Linked DNA regions of Homo sapiens: region 2 is linked to region 1. Evidence: fine-mapped expression QTL. A gene starts in region 1. The other region holds a variant in brackets. All regions are shown on one strand. Distances are from middle to middle.

The links. PIP is the estimated chance that this variant, and not a neighbour inherited with it, causes the effect.
Region 2: its variant is fine-mapped to the expression of ACAD10 in whole blood (TOPMed, PIP above 0.99).

The regions. Positions count from the first base shown.
Region 1 is chr12:111,679,107-111,690,029 of GRCh38, forward strand. ACAD10 (acyl-CoA dehydrogenase family member 10) reads left to right here and starts at 6,947. Exons shown (of 21, transcript NM_025247.6): 1 at 6,947-7,133. It overlaps BRAP (BRCA1 associated protein), which reads right to left and starts at 6,850. Exons shown (of 12, transcript NM_006768.5): 1 at 6,605-6,850; 2 at 4,040-4,201; 3 at 2,531-2,729; 4 at 45-234. The coding sequence starts at 6,686. RefSeq lists enhancers at 5,173-5,874, 5,875-6,576, 6,577-7,278 and a silencer at 6,623-6,722.
Region 2 is chr12:111,164,402-111,175,324 of GRCh38, forward strand. All of the region lies in intron 1 of CUX2 (cut like homeobox 2), which reads left to right. Among named protein-coding and RNA genes, the nearest start is that of MIR6760, 130 kb to the right of the region's middle. The variant A/T (reference allele first, on the strand shown) is at 4,927.

The sequences.
Region 1 (10,923 bases):
GTTTCTGTGGCAAAGAGATTTTTAATAAATTTAATAACTTTTACCTGTGCACGAAACTTTATCAGCACCATATATTGGTTGGGAGTAGAGTCTCTGATAATTTTCATTTGTTCAATTACTTCGTTAAATGGGGCAACAAACTTCATAAGGTCATGACTGGTCATTGCAGCAGGGACTGTGAGAATACACAGCATGGCACTGCGCCGCACATCTTCTTTTAAGGAGGTCATCTTACTAACAAAAAAAAAATTAGAGTGTCTTGAATAGATGAGGTATGGTTAGTTTAAACAATACTAGACAACTTTTATGTCCAAGAAAACAGGAAAAAATAAAAATTGTAATATTTCATTAATGAACTGTTCTATATTATACCCCCCATTGGACTTTTTAATCTTCAGTTCAACATTTATTACGGTTATAAATCTGCATTCGGTAAATTTGCAGTGTTTTACTCTCATCAATGTTTGAATAATAATCTGTCACTGGTGGCCAGGCACAGTAGCTCATGCTCGTAATCCCAGCACTTTGGCAGGCCGAGGCGGGTGGATCACGAGGTCAGGAGATCGAGACCATCCTGGCTAACACGGTGAAACCCCATCTCTACTAAAAATACAAAAAAAATTAGCCGGGCATGGTGGCAGGTGCTTGTAGTCCCAGCTACTTGGGAGGCTGAGGCAGGAGAATGGTGTGAACCTGGGAGGCAGAGCTTGCAGTGAGCCAATATCGCGCCATTGCACTCCAGCCTGGGCCACAGAGCAAGACTCCATCTCAAAAAAAAAAAAAAAAAAAAAAATCTGTCACTGGTTAACTTAAAAGCACAACTCTGGCTATGGACCTCTCTTAAAAGGCCTAAAAAAACAGCTCTAAATATACGAGAGAATTCTGTCTTTTTTTTTTTCAGAGTCTTGCTGCATGGTCTCGGCTCACTGCAACCTCTGACTCCTGGGTTCAAGCAATTCTCCTGCTCAGCCTCCCAAGTAGCTGGGATTACAGACGCGTGCCACCACGCCGGGCTAATTTTTGTATTTTTAGTAGAGATGGGGTTTCACTATGTTGGCCAGGCTGGTTTCGAACTCCTGACCTCGTGATCCCCCGCCTCGGCCTCCCAAAGTACTGGGATTACAGGCGTGAGCCACCACGCCCGGCAAGAGAGAATTCTAAACCATGAGGATGTAACTGAGGATTACAGGAAGTGTTACCAAGTTGAGATGGCTGGAATAGAGAGGAAAGAAAATCCTCCCACAATGCAATTTGTTTTTTGAAATGCTGCAAACTCACTTGACAGCTGTGATCCAGAATGGCTACCTGTGCCGGGTGCAGTGACTCACACCTGTAATCCCAACACTTTGGGAGGCTGAGGTGGGCTGATCACTTGAGGTTAGGAGTTCGAGACCAGCCTAGCCAACATGATGAAACCCCATCTCTGCCAAAAAAAAAAAAAAAATTAACTGGGCGTGGTGGTGTGCACCTGTGGTCCCAGCTACTCTGAGGCAGGAGAATTGCTTGAACCCGGGAGGGGAGGTTGCAGTGAGCCAGGATTGCACCACTGCACTCCAGCCTGAGTTATGGAGTGAGACCCTGTCTCAAAAAAAAACAAAACAAAAAACAAAACAAAAAACAAAACAAAAAACAAAATGGCTACCTGAATAGTCACTGTTTTCCCAGTAGAGATCTGGCAAATGAGTTAGCACAAGAACAGCCTTAAGGTATCAGCTACCATTACCCAAGAAGGTAGTGGCTGGGCTTGTGGATTATCTAGCCAAATGCTTCCTTTCCTTGGGGCTCTAGCAAGCTTTGTTTGAACCACAGAAAATGGTAAAAAAGAGGTAATAAAATTGTAATGAGTTAACTGACTTCTTAGCAGCCTCTTCAGTAAAGATTTGGTGGGGACATGAGACTACAAAGATGCTGTGGATCATTTTCTTTGTCCTTTCAATTCCCCATCACCTTCCATGCCTATCTGCTAAGAAAACATTTTCCTGGCAGGGCGCAGTGGCTCACGCCTGTAATCCCAGCACTTTGGGAGGCTGAGGCGGGCGGATAACCTGAGGTCGGAGTTCAAGACCAGCCTGGCCAACAGGGTGAAACCCCATCTCTACTAAAAATACAAAAAATTAGCTAGGTGTGGTGGTGGGCACCTGTAATCCCAGCTACTTGGGAGGCTGAGGAAGGAGAATCACTTGAACTCAGGAGGCAGAAGATGCAGTGATCTGAGATCGCGCCATTGCACTCCAGCCTGGGCAACGAGACCGAAACTCCATTTCAAAAAAAAAAAAAGAAAACATTTTTCCCACATATTCTCTTAAGTGTATCCACAAGCATTTCTTTTATAAGGAAAAGCTTTGACCCAATCCACAAGATTAATCAAATGTAAAACATCTGAGAATTCTCTAACATACAACAGACAAAAGTATTATTATTTTGAAGCTTAAAATACCCACTTTCCTTCAGGACAAGAGACTATGCTAAAGCAAAGCAAAAAAAAAAAAAAAAAAATTGACTAACCCCCAAGAAAAGAGGGTTTTCTTACTTTGTCTTATATAGGTGCATAATACCATGAACTATTTCAACTGATGGATTTCCACTGAAGAATGAAATCTGGTCTGGAAGCTGTTTGGACGGAGAATCTGGGGCAGCGTTTATGCATTCCTTACTGTGATCTTTACTTCTTTGCGCAGTGGGGGAGGCTTCTGAAGACTTCCTTTCTTCCACTGTAGTTTTTAGTTCATCTTTCACCAGTTAAAAAATAGCAGATTATAAATGGATAGGACATATGCTGAAGGATTTGAACTAGATTAAAATTTCAAGTCAGAGGAATAAACTTTGATAGAGTAATTACAATGTAATGCATTAACAGCTATTATTTGTAGAATAGCTGAGTTTATGAGGGCATCATACTTTAAAGCTCTCTTTGCTCCATAAAAATCTCATTAACACCCTCAGAAACTTAAGGATGGCTATTACATTTGGCAATACCATAATGCAAGCAGGTATCTTCTATCACGAAATCCTAACTGGGACAAACATTCAGGGCTACTAAGGTGGAAATCCAAACCTACCAGTTCTGACCACCTCCATGTTGGAGATGTAGTACTATCTACACATCCACTTCCGCAGATAAAATGAGCTGGCTGGCCGGGTGCAGTGGCTCATGCCTGTAATCCCAGCACTTTGGGAGGTCAAGAGGTTGAGACCATCCTGGCTCACATGGTGAAACCCTGTCTCTACCAAAAATACAAAAATTAGCTGGGTGTAGTAGCGTGCACCTGTAGTCCCAGCTACTTGGGAGGCTGAGAGAGGAAGGAGAATTGCTTGAAACCAGGAGGTGGAGTTGCAGTAAGCCGAGATCATGCCACTGCACTCCCACCTGGGGACAAAGTGAGACTGTCTCAAAAAAAAAAAAAAAAAAAAAGAAAAGAAAGAAAGAAAAAATGAGCTGGCAGAGCAGGGGAAGGCACGACATGTTTATTTGGACACATTAATGATCTGCCACTGAACTAGGTGGTAAGAAATTCTCCCTGGTAGCCGGGTGTGGTGGCTCACACCTGTAATTCCAGCACTTTGGGAGGCCGAGGCAGGTGGATCACTTGAGACCAGGAGTATGAGACCAGCCTGGCTAACATGGAGAAACCTTGTCTCTACTGAAAATACAAAAATTACCCAGGCGTGGTAGAGGGCATCTGTAATCCCAGCTACTTGGGAGGCTGAGGCAGGAAGACTGCTTCAGCCCAGGAGGCTGAGGTTGTAATGACCCGACATTGCACCACTGCACTCTAGCCTGGGCAACAGAGACCCTGCCTCAAAAAAAAAAGTCCCCCCCGTCACTGAACTGAATTGTCAACTCCAACTGTTAGGATTAATTTGGAAGAAATATTTGGAAACACTAACATGTGGCTTAACAGTGTCATATAAAGCACACACGTAGTGAAAGACAAAAGTATGCTAGATGTTGAAATTGTAGGCTCATCAAACACCGTGTATAAAATAGGCAACCAGTGTTCACATTACAAAAGAGAGTCCAGGGTTTTAGAAAGCATACCTGGGTTGGACTTCATGGTCTCAATGATCACATCTGTCATTTCTCGACGGCCGAGATGCTGATGGATAATCGCTACTTTCTCTCCTGGTGACTTGCCTTCTAAACAGGCTACAGCTGAGGCTAGTGTCGTCTTTTTTATCTCCTCATCAGACATTTCCCCGGCTAAAGAACACATGAATGATTAATACAAGGTAATAAAACAAGCTCCTCTCTGTTCTCTATTCCTCTATCATTAGGTTTTCCTTTTCTTTCTCCTGCCTTCCGCCAAGATGATAAGAAGCCTTTGTAGTATCCATCTCACTCAACTCTGGGACCACTGCAGTACACAGCAAAGAGTCAATAAGCAGCCAGGACAATATACTCAGAAATGCAGGGCTGTTCTACTGAAATCATGCACTTTATTTTTATTTTTTGAGACAGAGTCTCACTCTGTCACCCAGGCTGGAGTGCAGTGGTGTGATCTTGGCTCACTGCAACCTCCACCTCCCAGGTTCAAGTGATTCTCCTGCCCCAGCCTCCCGAGTAGCTGGGATTACAGGCACGTGCCACCACGCCCAGCTAATTTTTGTACTTTCAGTAGAGATGGGGCTTCACCATGTTGGACAGGCTGGTCTCGAACTCCTGGCCTCAAAGTGATCCACCCGCCTTGACCTCCCAAAGCGCTGGAATTACAGGTTTGAGCCACTGCGCCTGGCCCAAAATCATGCACTTTAAAGCAAATCGCCAAAGAGGGAGCCTTAGAGAAGATGCAACAGTGATCATGCCCAGATGAGCTAACATTTTAGTAACACCTGATAAAATGAAATTGTGTTCAGCCCAAAATGAAGCTATCAAGTCCATTAAAAAAACAAAATTTCAAAAACTTGTAGGGGTAGTCTTAAACATCCTGGCTTATGCTCATGCCATGAACCAAGCCATGAACATCTGTGATTACTGTCTTAAATCAATGAAACACATGAAAAGGGAAACGGAATTTGGAGACTTAACTGAAATATCCCTAATACATGCTCTGTCAGGGCAGGGACAAGGCCTGTTTTGCCCACCACTGTATTCCCAGCCCTTATACCACAGTGCCGAGCACACAGAGGAAGCCCTCTAAATGTTTGATGAATAAATGACTACATGACTGACCCATGCAGATGTCTATATGCGGCTAATATCAATTTAGCTGACTCTCAGAACTCAGAAGCCACTTTTAGCCTTTGGAAAGGTGCTCATAAGCTATAAAGTCATATTCAATCTTTAATTTGCAGCTTCAAAGGTCACGTCCTCAGGAAGTTCCCAATGACACCATCCCTACCTGCCCCCATCCCTCTCTCCAAACCAAACACATCTTCTTGTAATACTTTCCCAAATTGTTTCTCCTTTCCTTCACAGCACTTACCACAGTTGTAATTCTACACATATTCTGCACTTATTTAATTCATCTGTTTCCTCCATGATACTGCTGGTGCCATTAAAACAGAGACGCTGTCTGATTCAGCACACAAGGAAGGCTCCAGCAGATATGAGCATAAGTTTTTTTTTTGTTTTTTTTTTTGAAATGGACTTTATCTCTTGTCGCCCAGGCTGGAGTGCAGTGCCACAATCTTGGCTCACCGCAACCTCCACCTCCCGGGTTCAAGCGATTCTCCTGCCTCAGCCTCCCCAGTAGCTGGGATTACAGGCACCTGTCACCACGCCCAGCTAATTTTTGTATTTTTAGTACAGACAGGGTTTCACCATGTTGGCCAGGCTGGTCTTGAACTCTCAACCTCAGGTGACCCGCCCGCCTCGGCCTCCCAAAGTGTGAGGATTACAGGCGTGAGCCACCGCGCCCGGCCAAGTATTTCTTGAATGAATGTTAGTTAATTATCTGAGGACCAAGGAACAGAGCCAGAGCTGCATTCCCCACTAAGGAGCTTCCTCACTTGTGTTAATGGTGTAAAAAGCTCAGACTCAAGTCCAGCTCACTGAGTTAGAATCCCAGTTTCACCCATTACAGATAACCTTGGGCAAATCAATTAATCACTAAGCTTCAGTTTCCCAATGTGTAAGAGGTACATGTCACATCCATCTGCCTCTTAGGGCTGTTGCAAAGATAATTAAAGAATACAATACACAAAAGGTGCTTAGTACAGTGCTGGGATATAGGAAGTGTCCAAATTTTAGTTATGACTATGGTTAGGGGGCACTTCAATGGATATCGTTCCAAAAGGGAACAATTTAATTAACCCAGGGACCGTCCAGCGTTGCTGGGGACCCAGTCCCTGCCTTTACGAAGCCCATAGGGAAGCAAGTGAGACAAACACACCACTCGACTATCTCGAGAGGGAGACGCGCCAGGTATAAACTAAATGCCCTCAGACGGCACAGGGAGGGAGGTTCGGGGCAGGGCTTCCCTGAGATAACAAACGGGAAGGCCTCTCAAAGGCGGATGGGAAAGAGAGGGATCCCGATTACCTCTCCGTGTCTTCCTGGGCAACAGCCCTCGCCGCGGGCTTTTCCCGGGCCAGTGCTTTGGGAAGGGAAGCCCTCCGGGCCCAGACCCGGCTACAGGGAATGCGGCGAGGCCGCGGGACTCACCCGCGGCGCTGAAGCCGAAGCCGGCGGGGACAGGCGAGTGTTCCGCGAGCTCCAATCGGATAACAACCAGTGACACACTCATAGGGCAGGCGCTGGCCGGCGCGGGCCCCGGCGGGCTCAGGCGAGGCTGGAAGGCGAGCCGAGAGGCCGAGCGGCCCGGGGCCGGCAGCGCCGCCACCACCTCAATGCAGTTGCCGCCGCCTCAGCAGCAGCAGCTCCTCGAACAGCCCTCGGAGCCACAACAACCTCCACTTCCGCCTCCCGGCCGCCGTCGCTGACCTGCGGTTTACGCATGCGCGCAGGACCGCGCACAGCGATTGGGCGGCGTGGCAGGGGTCACCCACTGCTCTTCCGGACGCAATTTTGAGGAGGTCGGAGCGGAAGGACGTCGTGGAGATTGCTTGCGCTGGGGTGCCACACTTAGGCTGAGCTGCAGGTTTTCGCACAGTCGCGAGTTAACCTCTGCTTGCTCCAGAGGCCTCGTCCTAATCCACCTCGGCTGACGGCGCGGGATCCCTGGCTCCGCGAGGTCTCCGAATTGTCCGAGCTATCTGCTATGCAGAACTTTGCCCCTTTTGTTGTGTTTGACTCCTGTCTCTAACCCTAGTCTGGATGGTTTTGTTTCTGTCCCACTTTACAGATAGGTACAACGAGGCTCAGAGAGGTGAAGTTCCTTCTAAGGGGCCGTAGAGAGTGGAGAGTCGATCGCTGTTCAGATAGCGATCTGGCTGGGCGCGGTGGCTCACGCCTGTAATCCCAGCCCAGAGGCTTAGGCGGGCGAATCACCTCAGGTCAGCAGTTCGAGACCAACCTGGCCAACATGGTGAAACCTCGTCTCTACTGAACATACAAAAAATTAGCCGGGCTTGGTGGCGCGCGTCTGTAGTCCAAGCTACTTGGGAGGCTGAGACAGGAGAATCGCTTGAACCCGGGAGGCGGAGGTTGCAGTGAGTCGAGATAGTGCTAGTGCACTCCCGCCTGGGCAACAAGAGCGAAACTCCGTCTCAAAAAAAAGAGAGAAAAGATGGTGATCTGCTGGTTACGAGCATAGTGCTGCAGTTAGACCGGGGTCCTCCTCCCCACCCTGTCACTTCACAAATGTTTACTGAGAGTCTAGACACCCTTGGGATGCTTGAGATACGTTGGCGTATAAGATAAACACAGTTCCTGTCCGTACTATGAGGTTGACCTACATCAGCAGTTGTGCAGTCTTGAACTAGTATAGTCATTGCATAAAGTTGGCATGATATCATGTCCTCATGCAGTTGTGAGGATGAAATGGAATTATGTATATGGAGATAACATTAGCTTTTCTGAGGCTCAGCATTCTTTCCAGTATGTCAGAGTGGCTTTTGTATGTAGATACTGACACAATCAATGCATATGGGACACATACATGACAGGATGCTACTCTAGGTACATTGTATAATGATACATATGTAAGTACATAGTACATTCTAGATGTGTGTGTGTGTGGACATAGTGCGTTCTAGATGTGTGTGTATCTGGACTATGACATGACCACAAGATACATGCGTATATAGATCTTGTGACTACATCCTATGAAATACGTTTCCATATGCCCTGTTTAAATCAGGGTTTCTCAACTCTGCACTATTAACATTTTGGGTCCTGATTATTCTTTTTTGTTTTTGGCAAGGGGGCGGGGTGTCCTGAGCATTGTAGAGTGTTTAGAAACATCCCTGGCCTGACCCACTAGATGTCAGTAGCACCTCTCCCCAGGTGGTGACAACCAATAATGTCTCTGGACCTTTCCAGATGTCTCCTTGGGGTTAGAAAACATAACCCTGTTGAAGAATCACAGGGTTATGTGAAAGTGCATAAACCATACACACATACTGTATGCATAAAACCTATGAGACCTCTTGTGAACTTTTTTAGTATATTACTATAGTAGATAACATTTCAACATGTGCCAGGTACTAATTTGAGTGTTTCATATACCTTGTGTCATGCAATGGTCACAACAACTTTATGAAACTGGTACTATGTCCCTGTTCTACAGAGGAGTAACCTGAGGCTTGGAGGAAGAGTAACTGGCTCAGGATTTCACAGGTAGTAGTGGCAGAGCTGGAACTGAAATTCAGGCAATCTGAATCCAGAACGAACATTCTTTATCTCTTTACCAAACAAACCTTTTTTTTTTTTTGTATTTTGAGACGGAGTCTCACTCTGTCGCCCAGGCTGGAGTGCAGTGGTGCCATCTCGGCTCACTGCAACCTCGGCTTCCTGGGTTCAAGCTTCCTGCCTCAGTCTCCCAAGTAGCTGGGACTACAGGCACACAGCACTGCACCCAGCTGATTTTTGTATTTTTTTTTAGAGATAGGGTTTCACCATGTTGGTCAGACTTGTCTCGAACTCCTGACCTTGTGATCCGCCCACTTCGGCCTCCCAAAGTGCTGGGATGACAGGCGTGAGCCACCGCGCCCGGCCCCCCCAAAGGCATTTTTCGTCTCTACTAAGCCCTCACACAAAATATACAAGTGTGTAAGTAAATTTCTCTTTCTATCATAAACATTGGCCTTGGCATAGGAACGTTAAGTAAAACTGAAAATGCAAATGAACCTTGACATTTTTAGTTTCAAATATTGCCCCCAAATTCAGCAAATTTCCAATTACTGTCGTTGCATGGTGGTATCCTCAGCAGATGGGTGCAGGACCCCCTGCAGATGCCAAAATCTGTGGATGCTCAAGTTCCTGATATACAATGGTGTAGCATTTGTTTATAACCTATGTACACCCTCCTATATGCTTTAACCCATTTCCCATTTAGAAAAAAAAAGTACTTGACTTGGTGTGGTGGCTCACGCCTGCAATCCCAGCACTTTGGGAGGCCGAGGCCGGTGGATCACTTGAGGTCAGGAGTTCGAGACCAGCCTGGCCAACATGGTTAACACCCGTCTCCACTATAAAAATACAAAAAATTAGCTGGATGTGGTGGCGAGCGCCTGTAGTCTCAGCTACTCGGGAGGCTGAGGCAAGAGAATAGCTTGAACCTGGGAGGCGGTTGCAGTGAGCCGAGATCACACCATTGCACTCCAGCCTGGGCGACAGAGCAAGACTCCGTCTCAAAACAAAACAAAAAAAAGAAAGCAAAAAAAGTGCAGCTCGCTGCCAGCACAGTATTCTCAGGGCAAGCAAGATATGAGTTAAGTAATCCCTAGATTGCTTATAATACTGGCTGGGCACGATGGCTCACGCCTGTAATCCCAGCACTTAGGGAGGCCAAGGTGGGTGGATAATGAGGTCAAGAGATCGAGACCATTCTGGCCAACATGGTGAAATCCTGTCTCCAGTAAAAACACAAAAATTAGCCAGGCGTGGTGGCACGCACCTGTAATCCCAGCTACTCGGGAGGCTGAGGCAGGAGAATCGCTTGAACCCAGGAGGTGGAGGTTGCAGTGAGCTCTGATCATGCCACCGCATTCCAGCCTGGTGACAGAGGGAGACTCCATATCAAAAAATATATATATTTAATATATATATCAAATCATATCCATATCAAAATATATAAATATATATACATGCATATATATGTATGTATACCTAAAACAGTGTAAGTACTGTGTAAATAAATAGTTGTTAACCTGTATTTTTTGTTTGCATTTTTTATTGTTGTGTTGTTATTTTTGTTGGTTTTTGTTTGTTTTTGAGATGGAGTCTCACTCTATAACCCCGGCTGGAATGTGGAGTGCAGTGGTGCAATCTTGGTTCACTGCAACCTCCACTTCCCTGGTTCAAGTGATTCTCATGTCCCAGCCTCCCGAGTATCTGGGATTACAGGTGTGCGCCACCACGCCTGGCTAATTTTTTTTCTGTGTTTTTAGTAGAGACGGGGCTTCACAATGTTGACCAGGTTGGTCTCGAACTCTCGACCTCAGGTGATCCGCCTACATTAGCATCCCAAAGTTCTGGGATTACAGGCGTCAGTTACTGTGCCCTTACTGTGTGTGTTTGTTTTGTTTTGTTTTACTTCAAATATTTTCTTCTTTTTTTTTTTTTGAGATGGAGTCTCACTCTGTTGCCCAGGCTGGAGTCCAGTGGCACCATCTCGGCTCACTGCAAGCTCCGCCTCCCCAGTTCACACCATTCTCCTGCCTCAGCCTCTTGAGTAGCTGGGACTACAGGTGCCCACCACCACGCCCGGCTAATTTTTTGTATTTTTAGTAGAGATGGGGTTTCACCGTGTTAGCCAGGATGGTCTCAATCTCCTGACTTTGTGATCCGCCCGCCTCGGCCTCCCAGAGTGCTGGGATTACAGGCGTGAGCCACTGCACCCGGCCTTACTTCGAATATTT
Region 2 (10,923 bases), 510 kb before region 1:
CCCGTCTCTACTAAAAATACAAAAATTAGCTGGGCGTGGTGGCACGTGCTTGTAATCCCAGCTACTTGGGAGGCTGAGGCAGGAGAATCACTTGAATCTGGGAGGTGGAGGTTGCAGTGAGCAGAGATTGTGCTATTGCCCTCCAGCCTGGGCAACAGAGTGAGACTCCATCTCAAAAAAATAAAAAAGAAAAAAAAAGAGAACAAGCAAAAGACAATAACAGAAAGTGAGCATGAGGGATCCACACAAATTGGATCAGCCCCCCAAGGTGTTCGTAGTTAGAAGTCACGCAATAATTGCTTTGGGAGTTTATGAAACCTTGAGGCACAGAGGAATGTTAGGGGTCCCATGAGCAATTTGGGGATGTGAATGTTGGGGATTCACATCCTCACTGCTAACAGTGTGATGTTACAGTGTGGTCCACAGTAGAACTGAATTGCTCATTAGAAATACAGAGACTTGTCCCTGCCTGTACCCCCTGTAGCAGAATCTGTACTTTAACAAGATCTCCAGGTGACTCGTGTGAAAATTAAAGTTTTAGGGCCAGCCATGGGGGGGAGAGGAGGAGGACAGATCAGAGGGAAGCAGAGCCAAGAGACAGAAATCAAACCCTGCGAATAGCATTTGAACTGCTGGATCCAGCCATACCTGAAGCCACCACTCCACTGTTCAATTATATGAGCAATGGATTCCCTTTTTTTCTTAAGCTACTTTGTAGATGCTGTCAGAAGGGCCTCTGTGTCGTAAGGGACTAGGGGCTATTTATGCGGGTAAGGATGGGGTGGAGGCTATGATCCTATATGCCATTTTATTAGGAAAACATTTGGTGTTTAGCTCTCTGGGTAGGGAAGAGATGCATCTTTCTGCCCCCTGAGAAAAGAGAAGTAGGAAGGTCATGGAGGGCCATGGTGACCCACATGGCAGGACGTCTTCAGAGCCAAACCAGAGTGACCTCATTGAGGCAGTGGCCTCCAGAAGTTGTCAAACAGAGTTAAGCACAGAAGATGCAAGGGTTTGGTGGAGAGTGGACACAGACTGTCGTCTGTCTCTACCAAGACGGTCAGTGTTATTGTCTCATGGCGGGGAATTTGGGCCACGTGCAGAGAACATGAACTTTAAAATCCACACAGAACTGGACTCAAATTCTGGTGCTGCTGCCACTTGCTCACTGTATGACCCTGGGTGAAGAAATATGTGTATCTGGGCCTCATTGTCCTTGTCTACAAAATGGGGGTAAAAATAGCACTGACCTCATTGGGATGTGGAGAGTGTTCGTGCAGCAGTGACCAGAGCTGGTGGGTGAGAACCAGCTATAAGCATCGCCTCCCAGCTCCACGTGTAGTGACATCACAGCAGGGCTTGAAATTGACCATGGTGGGAAAATGTACACCATGGAAATGGTAAATATCAGAATTTGTCCTTTTTCTCCAGAGAGCTGGTTGTTTAACATTTACCAGCATCCTACTGGTGAAATGCCAAGACGTATTTAAATTGCTATCCACAGTGTTTGGTGGTGGTGATTACTAATTACGATTATATTAAGCATGTTACTCTAATATTACTAATATGAAATGGTTTTCATGATTGCGCTTTCAGTGTGTCCACTTTGACTCTTTTTTGTTGTTGTTGTTTTTATAGACTGGGTGTCTCGCTGTCACCCAGGCTGGGGTGCAGTGGTGTGATCACGGCTCACTGCAGCCTCAACCTCCTGGGCTCAAGTGATCCTCCTGCCTCAGCCTCCTGAGTAGCTGGGACTATAGGTGTGCACTATCACACCTGACTAACTTTTTTCATTTTTTTGTAAAGACGAAGTCTCGCTATTGTTGCCCAGGCTGGACTTGATCTTCTGGCCTCAAGCGATTCTCCTGCCTTAGCTTCCCAAAGCACTGGGATTACAGGCGTGAGCCACTACGCCCAGCCTGCGACATTTATTTTAACTGCTTGGAAGCCTTTTCTTCTAACCCTCTGGCTCCTAGCTCCATTCTGGAAAGCTGACATTATCAGTTAGCTGAGTTCTGAGTAGACGACATACCGTAGATGGTAATACCCAAACTAACATTTATTGAGCATGGACTAAGTGCCAGGCACTGGAAAAGCACTTCCTGCAGATATTCTCATTTAACCCACCCAACAACTCTATGAGGTATGAACCCCATGTTGTGAACACAGCCCGAGGCTCAGAGAAGTTAAGTGACTTGCTCTGGTTTGCACAGCTGCTTGATGGAGGGGCCAGGCTTTGAACCCTCGCATTTTGACTGTAGAGTCTGTGCTTTCATCAGGAGGATCTGCAGAGGCTAAACGTGGAAGGGGCCGGTGTTTGGTCCCTGAGAGTGGACCCTCCTTGCTGGGAGGCTTGGGCGGGGGTAGCGGACACTGCCCAGGACCGAGAAGTCCTGACGGCATCATCTGCTTGGCGAACAGCAACCGTCCAACTTTCTGGGACGCGTGCCGGCCGCATTCTGATTGGCGAGGGGATGTCTCTGTTGGAAGGGAATCTTGGCCACTTGCCCCTTGGCAGCAGGCTGCTGGCTGCCACGTGGAGTGCCGTTTGGAGGCGGTGGGAATTATTCGGCAACCTTGCCTGGGATAGCTTGGAATGGATTGTGGCAGGGCAGGGCGGGGGCTCTGCCAGTCTCCTAGACAGGCTGGCAGGGAGAGCGAGAGCGCCAGCACTGTCACAAGAAGCTCACAGTCTCAGCTTCTGCACTGTCCTCCCTGCCCCTGTCTGTCTCTGTCTCTTGCTATCCCTTGGCCTCTCTTTCTGCCAGGACTTGAGCTGACAGGTGGTTTGGCACCAAGGGAAGCACCATCCCCTGTCCCCACAGGCCTTCTTTCCTTCACCTGCACTGAAGCTTAGGGGCTTTTGCTTCTTCCACTGTTCCCTATTTCCATCGAGATAAAGTTCACACTCCTTGACTTGGCTCGAAAACCTCTTGTGATATGACCCCTGCCTCTCGGTTCTGTAGCTTGTGCCCCTAAGTAGACCATGGGCTTCTCGAGGGGGAGGGCCTGTTTCATCCTCAACTTTTTATTTTTCTGTAATGCCTAGCCCAGAGCTCACTCAGAACAAGTGGGTGAACTTGAAAGGCAAGGAGGGGTGACCCCCGTCCATGGTAGAAGGGACCGAGTCACTTCAGGATTTGCAGTCATAGCCTGTGCTGCATCTTAAGGCAGATTTACCACGTTGTCAGATGCCATGCAAAGCTCTAAGTTTTTTCTGTTCCTATCTCATTTAATCCTCCTAACAATCCTATTAGGTTGGCCCTGGGTTTGTTTGTTTGTTTGTTTGTTTGTTTGTTTGTTTCTTTTTTGAGATGGAGTCTTGCTCTGTTGCCCAGGCTGGAGTGCAGTGGCATGATCTTAGCTCACTGCAACCTCTGCTTCCTGAGTTCAAGTGATTCTCATGCCTCAGCCTTCTGAGTAGCTGGAATTACAGGTACACGCCACCACGCCCAGCTAATTTTTGTATTTTTGTAGAGAAGGGGTGTCACCATGTTGGCCAGGCTGGTCTCGAACTCCTGACCTCAAGTTAACCACCCACCTCTGCCTCCCAAAGTGCTGGGATTACAGTTGTGAGCCACTGCGCTCAGGGTACGCCCTGTTTTATCCCCATTTTACAGAGGAGGAAACTGAGGCACAGAGAGATCACCTAGAGAGGGCAGTGATAAGATTTGAACTCAAGCCAGTCCGGAGCCAAGCTGGCTGGAGTGAAGTCTTTCTAAACTGCCCTGACAGATGTGCACCGTCTCAGCGCCGTTCCTCCCCAACCCATTTCCTGAGGCCTCATCAGACAGCAACCCAGTTTGTGGCTCCTCACCTCACCCCAACTCTGCTGTGTTCACACATCCTTGATGAATTAACCTGGGCAACACCAGCCCTGCCTGTCACACTGATAAAGGTAGAGCTGTGGAGATCTGGGTTGCAGAAGATGTCACAAGCCCTTCTCTCTGCCTGTCACCTGTCCCCTGCAGATTCCAGGGCTGCTCAGAAGTTTTGGAGAATAGCTGGAATGATCCTTATTGATCTGATGGGTGGGTGTTTGGAAACAAGGAGAGACGCACTAAGTTGGTTCCTTCCAAGCAGGACCTCCCACCACACCAGAACCTCGTCCCGTCGGTCAAGGGTGGCCCATGTGGCTCAGCATGCTGGGGACTGATTGTTTCCACGTTCCCTAGCTCTGCCTGACAACAGAGCGACATTCCTGTGCCATCACAGGGGAGAGTCGCATTGTGTTAGTGACTCCCCATCAAACTGTGTCATATTGGGATTGTATTGTATTCATAGTTGTTTCCACTAATGTGATATGAAAGTTACTAATCGGAGAAGACTCCTGCATTGTATTAGGGAAAACAAATATTAATATGAGTCGATGGAAGTAGCTAATAAGAAACGCAAGTTGCTAATAGGACATGATGGATCAGTGGGAGGAATTTGGGTCGGGTGCTTGAACTTTTGTGGAATGCTCAGCCGGGTGGGGGTTGCAAGATGGCAGGAACTCTATGTTATAGTCGCTCAGAGTATGAAGGTCCATATCAGAGCCCCCTGCCTGCCCCCTCCCCCCACTGTCATCACTACCCCTCCATCTCACCTCTGTCCTGCATTGAATGGCATCCGCCAAAATTCATGTCCACCTAGAACCTCAGGGTATGACCTTATTTAGAAACAGGGTCTCTGCAGGTGAAATCAGTTAAGATGAGGCCATACTAGAGTAGGGTGGGCCCTAAATCTAATGACTGATTGTACTTGTCAAAAGGCCACATGAAGACAGGGACACTCAGGGAGAAAGTCATGTGATGACAGAGGCAGGGATGGGAGCGATGCCACAAGCCCAGCAACACCAAGGATGGCCGCGACCACCAGCAGCTGGAGGTGGCGAGGAAGGACCCTCCCCTGGAGCCTGCAGAGTGAGCGCAGCCCTGCCAGCCC[A/T]CACCTTGATTTCAGACTTCCAGCCTCCAGAAGCGGGAGAGAAGACATTCCTGTTGTTTTAAACTCCCCTAGTTGGTGGTAATTCATCACAGCGTCCGTAGGAACAGAACCCCCTTTCCCCACCATGCCCCAGAAAAGCAGGGATGGCCACAACCATACTCGTTTTATTCAAAGATAGCCAATCGGATCAGGGACATTCTTCCACCCTCAGCGGGTCGGCCTGGCTGCCTAACCAGCCCTGAGGATGGAGGGCTGGCTCTCTCCCTGACTTTGTTCTTTTAAAGAGGAAAAAGCCTCCTCAGTGGCAGGGTGGTTGGCATATGGGCTCCGCAGCCTGCTTCGCGTCACGTTAATATGTGATTAAAGGGGTCTTAAAACGCCCATTAGTCCCCCTCTGGTATCTAATAGCGCTTTTGGATTTAGAACAGAATATTATTTACTCATTAGCTGATAATAGACCCTGAGTACACGCCTTATGTATTGGGACAATTATTAGAGTCGATTACACACAGAGACGTGGTTCTGCTGGGGTGGCTGGTGGCAGGCCAGGGTGGTCCAGAGGGCATGAGGGTGGCAGGGAATGACTATGGGCCATATGTGGACAGCAGGGAGCCCGCTAGAGATTGTGTGTGGCAGCTGTGGATGGAAGCAAATTCCCTGTGCAAACAGGGCCACTGGATGCCCCATGCAAGGTACTAGGGGGAAGAATTTAAGGAAACTGCCTCCAAGAATTGGGGTGCCAACAGTAACAGCCCCTATGCAGCAGTAAGGGATTGCACTTGAGCATTCGTCCTGAGTCTCCCAGGATGAGAGTATTAAGAACAATAACTGGCCAGGCGTGGTGGCTCACGCCTGTAATCCCAGCACTTTGGGAGGCAGATCACCTGAGGTCGGGAGTTCAAGACCAGCCTGACCAATATGGAGAAACCCCTTCTCTACTAAAAATGCAAAATTAGCCGGGAGTGGTGGCACATGCCTGTAATCCCAGCTACTCGGGAAGTTGAGGCAGGAGAATCACTTGAACCTGGGAGGCAGAGGTTGTGGTAAGCCAAGATCATGCCATTGCACTCCAGCCTGGGCAACAAGAGCAAAGCTCCGTCTCAAAGAAAGAAAGAAAAAAAAAAAAACTGCCCCCACCGTGGATCACAGGATAGGGTGATGTGCCCAGGATACACAGCTAGGAAGTGACTGAAGCTGGATGCACACCCCCAGCTCTTCTTTTTTTTTTTTTTTTTTTTTTTTTTGAGACGGTGTGTCACTCTGTCACCCAGGCTGGAATGCAGTGGCACGATCTCAGCTCACTGCAACCCCTGCCTCCTGAAACCCAGTTCTTCTGATGACAAAGCCTGGGTTCTTTTCAACATCCTCTCCACTTGCTGCAGAAACTGCTCAATGATTCCAGTCTTCCCCATTCTCCGACAGAAAGAGGAACTTTGACATCACTTCCTCTTATGTGTGGTGTGTTGGAAAGATGAAAATAGCAGGTTGTTCCTCTCCGTGGCTGGGTCCCTGACCTCGGGCCCAGCGTGGTAGGAAGGCCGAGGTGGAGGGAATAAGCATGTGGAAGCCATGGGAGTGTCTCCTGGGAAGCGGGAGAGATTAAGGAGGGATGGACCGGGCCCATGTCTGGCATCGGCAATTCTGGTCAAGGTGCATGGGAATGGGAGGGGAGTGGGGAAGCGCCAGGTAGGGTCCAGCAAGGTGTTCTGGTTGCCCTGGTGATGCCTCTTGGGCTGTGACCCAGAGTGGCGTTGGCATCCAAGGAGAGAATAGGTGCTGGTAACACCTGGAGTCATCCCAGCAGGTGTCAGTGGCTGATTCCACTTGGGGGTGACAGAGATGGAGAAGTTGGGCAACCCCCAGTCTGATGGACGGGGTGCAGAGTATGGAAGGAAAGCCTCGAGTTTGACCTTCACACACACCTTGACCTTGTTGGCAAGCCCGATCTGCAGGTCATCAGTTTGCAGTGATTTTGCCAGTGAACACCTGAGCCCCTTAGTGCATTGTGCAGCCTGCTGAGAGCACCAAAAACCTCCCCTTAATACCCAGACTCACTGCGGCTTTTCTGAGACCGGCCAGAAGGACAGACGAGAGGGGTTTCTTATGCACCAGTGGGAGTGGGTCTCTCTCTGACCCAATGCAAGCAGCCCGGAGACATCTTGCTTCCTTGTTTCCATGGCTTGTGGGGAAACCCCGGTCCCGTGTCCCTGTGCACGCAGATGGCTAGTGGCTCAGTGGGTCTCCGGAGCACAGCCACCTGACACATCTGGGGCTATGGGACGGAAAAGCCCAGAGTGCCCTCTCTGAGGAGTCATCCCAGCCTGTGGCCACAGTGATGCTGAAGGGGTTTGCAGGCCATAATTAGGGGCTCAGTGTCACCTTTGTCCAGTGCCTGAGCTGAGAACAGGGCTCCCTGGTGAAAGAATGGCAGGGTCCCTTTTCGCCTCCCGGGGAAGGAGCCGGAGAGAAGGCAGAGCTTGGGAAATTGGCCCTCTGTCTTCTCCCATCCAGATATGTGGGTCCTGGGCCTTACCTGTACCAAATAAATAACCCATTTCCCAATGGGCAGGCAGCATATGCACTCTCTGTGTGTGCGTGTGCCTGTGCCTGTGTACACGTGCGTGTGTGTGCGTGCATGTGCATGCACCTGTGTGTGTGTGCATGTGCCTGTGTGTGCGCATGTGTGTGCATATGCCTGTGTGTACCTGTGCCTGCGTATACATGTGCATGTGCACACGTGTGTGCATGCACCTGTGCGTATGCATGTCTCTGCGTGTGCATATGCTTGTGTGTGTGTGTGCATGTGCCTTTGTGTGTGCATGTGCCTCTGTGTGTGTGTTTGTGTGTGTATGTGCATGTGTGTTTGCCTGTTTTTTAATAAAGCTCACCAGGAGCCAGATATCAATTTCTGTCAGAGAGACGCAGAGCATCTGAACCAGAACTAAATAAAAATAAACATTAAACAATTATTGGAATTTAGGTTTATTTAAAAAATCAGCAGGGTTGAGGGAACCAGCCACCCATTAGCGAGGCAGAACTATCGGGCCTTTTAACAACCCGCTGGTTCTTGGCTGCCAGAGAGATTTGGGCTGTCCAAGCTGTAGAAACTCCAGATCCTATTGATTAAAGATGATGCAGTAACGAACAAATTATATCATCGTGGCTGCTTGTGGTGCTGGCCAACACTGGCTACCTGTTTGTCTTGATGGAAATGGCTCTATCTGGGGGACTCCGGGAGGGTGGTTCAGTGTCCCCATCCCAGCCAGCGCTTTCCACTCTGTGCAGTTCCTGCAGCTGGGTGGAGGCTCCGAACCTCGAGCTGTCTGGGGTTCTTGTGTTTTTCTCCTCTCTGTCCCTTCCATGGACATCTGTAGTTTAAAAGGAGTCTGTGTCTTGTCAACCAAATCAATGCAAATAACCAGTGAACGTTTCTCGACTTTTCAGTAATAATTGATCTTCCCAGAACTGATATCGTTTGGAAAACGTAAGTAAGGAGATCAGCAGTGAGCCAGATGTCCACACTAAGAGAATATAACTGCTCTGAGTTATAGGAAAAGAAATGATTTCCCTTCCAGCTTTAGCTCCAAGAGCTGAGCAAACTGCCGTGCAGCATCGAGAAGCTTCCAATAAACTCGGGGCTTAGTTCGAGGCAGCCTCAGCCTCTCAGCCAGAAGACTTGGGTGAGTGCGGGACTGGAATCTTCCAAGCTGATGGGCAGACTTCTTGCCTGCAAATTTTTGGTCTCTAGGTTTTTATCTGGAAGCTGTCTGCACAGCCAGTTGCTGTCAGGGAGAGAGAGGTTTGTTGTTCTTCTTGAGGGATGTTCAGGCTTAGACCCTGAGCTGGGCATCTACTGCGTGGGAGTCTCCCCTTGGCTGGTTCTTTGGTTGATGTTCTTGTTGTTCTAATTTGATGGTCATTCCCATACATTGCTGTGATTGGCTCCTGACTTGACCAGGGTGATACTCAGAAAGTCAAATGGGGACGGGGACAGGGTTGATCTGTGGGCTGGTGGATGGAAAATAGGATGCCAGGGGGCACTTTCTTTATGAACACTGTCATTCTTCCAGAACTCATTCATTTGTTCATTTGAGCATTCATTCATGTGCTCATGCAACATATAGTTCCGGGGCACCTACTCTCTTCTAGGCACGATGAGGTGCTGGGCGCACAGGGGTACCTGCCCTCCTGGAGCTTTTAGTCTAGCTATGAAGAGGCACAGACTTGAAATAGTTCCTGATGACATCACAGTTGCCATAGTGCTTCATAGAGGTGAGGAGGCAGCAGCAGGGGCTCACGACAGCAGGAAACTGGCCTCATGTTGGGGTGTTGGTCTGCTGGAAGTAATGTTTAAGCTGCAACTTGGCTGAGGGGTAGGCCTGAGTTAGGCCATTGATTTTCAGACTTGAGCATGCATTTAAATCACCTGAAATTTCCTTGAAAAAAATCGCCAGGCTCTACCCTCAGAGTTTCTGATTCAGTAGGTCTGGAGCCCGTCCAAGAATTTGCATTTCTAACAAGATCCCAGGTGACACTGATCCTGCTGGGCCAGAGACTTTGGGAACCACTGAACTGGGCAAAGAATTGGGAGGAGAGGGCATTCAGGTAGCGGAAACTGCACGTACAAAGGTCCTGGGGCTGGTTTGGGCTTGGCAGTTTCCAGGAACCAAATGAAGGGCCAGAGGGTGGAGCAAAGCACAAGGACTGTGGGAGGAAATGCTGTAGAGAAGCAGGCAGGGCCCTGACCACACAGGCCTTGCAGACTGGGCTGGAGAGTTCAGATTTGATCTGAAATGGAATGGGGAGTCCGGGGAGGTTTTAAGCAGGGAAGTATCAACATCCAGTTTACATCTTGAAATGCCCTGTCTGGCTGCCAGGGTGGAAGTGAGATGGCAGAGAATTGCATGGAGCCAGGGAGGCCCCTGCAAGCATCCAGGCAGGAATTGGCAGTGACCAGACCAGGCTGATGACAGCAGGCATGGAGAGGCACGGGACGTGTCTGAATGAGTCCACGCTCCTGCTTTCCAGGAAGTTTTCCTGATCAGTTTGGTTCCACCCTTCAATCTGTGAACCCTAATTTCTCACTTGAAGAAGTTGTCCTATGTTGACGTGACATTAGCAGTTCCTTGAGGGTAGGGCTGTGTGTGTCATATGTGAGTCACATGCAGCCCCTAGTTGGATACACAATACCTTATACTAGCTGGCCAAAAGCACGGGACAGTTTACCTGCAATGGTTACCACATCCAGTTTTCCAAATACCCTGCAGGAAAGGTGGAGTTGTGCCCATTTTGCAGAGGGGGAAAACTGAGATTCAGAAAGGGCACGGGATACTCCCAAGCTCCCCAAGGTGGGCTGAAGGAAAAGCAAGATTCCCTCTACAGACTGGGGTGCCCTCTGGTGACCAGACAAAGGGAACAGGGACATCACCACCCGTGAACCCTAGACAGCAACCACAATTCTCTTTGGAGGTATCAGCAGCCTTCCCCAGGATGATGATCAGGCCACCGGAAATATTAAGCAGATAGAGAAGAAATTGCAGTTTTGAAGAAGTCAAAAATGGCCAAATAGCAGCAGTTTCCTGTGGTTCAACTGAAATCAAAATATAAAGAGGAAATCTTACAATTCCAGAAAATTCTGCTACAGCATGAGGAAGAGGAGTCACCATGCAGTCTAAATTGTCTCTGGAAGCAGCTCCCCCCCACACACAGAAGAGGGGGCCGTACAGGGATGCAGCATCTTAGAATCAGTCTATAATGCAATCAATTTTGTACATCCCTGGTGAAACAGCAACATTTATTTAACGTCTTTTATAGAGCAGCTGAGTTTTATCACAAATCACATTCCATTTCTATTCATCTGGGACTCCTTGAAGGCTAAAATGCACTTACTTTTCTCCGAGGAAATTTACCAATTCCTCAGTAAAGACCCATTTGCCTCTGTATGTAAAATTGACACATTTATTGAATATTAAACATTTAAGGTTTTTTTTACCAACC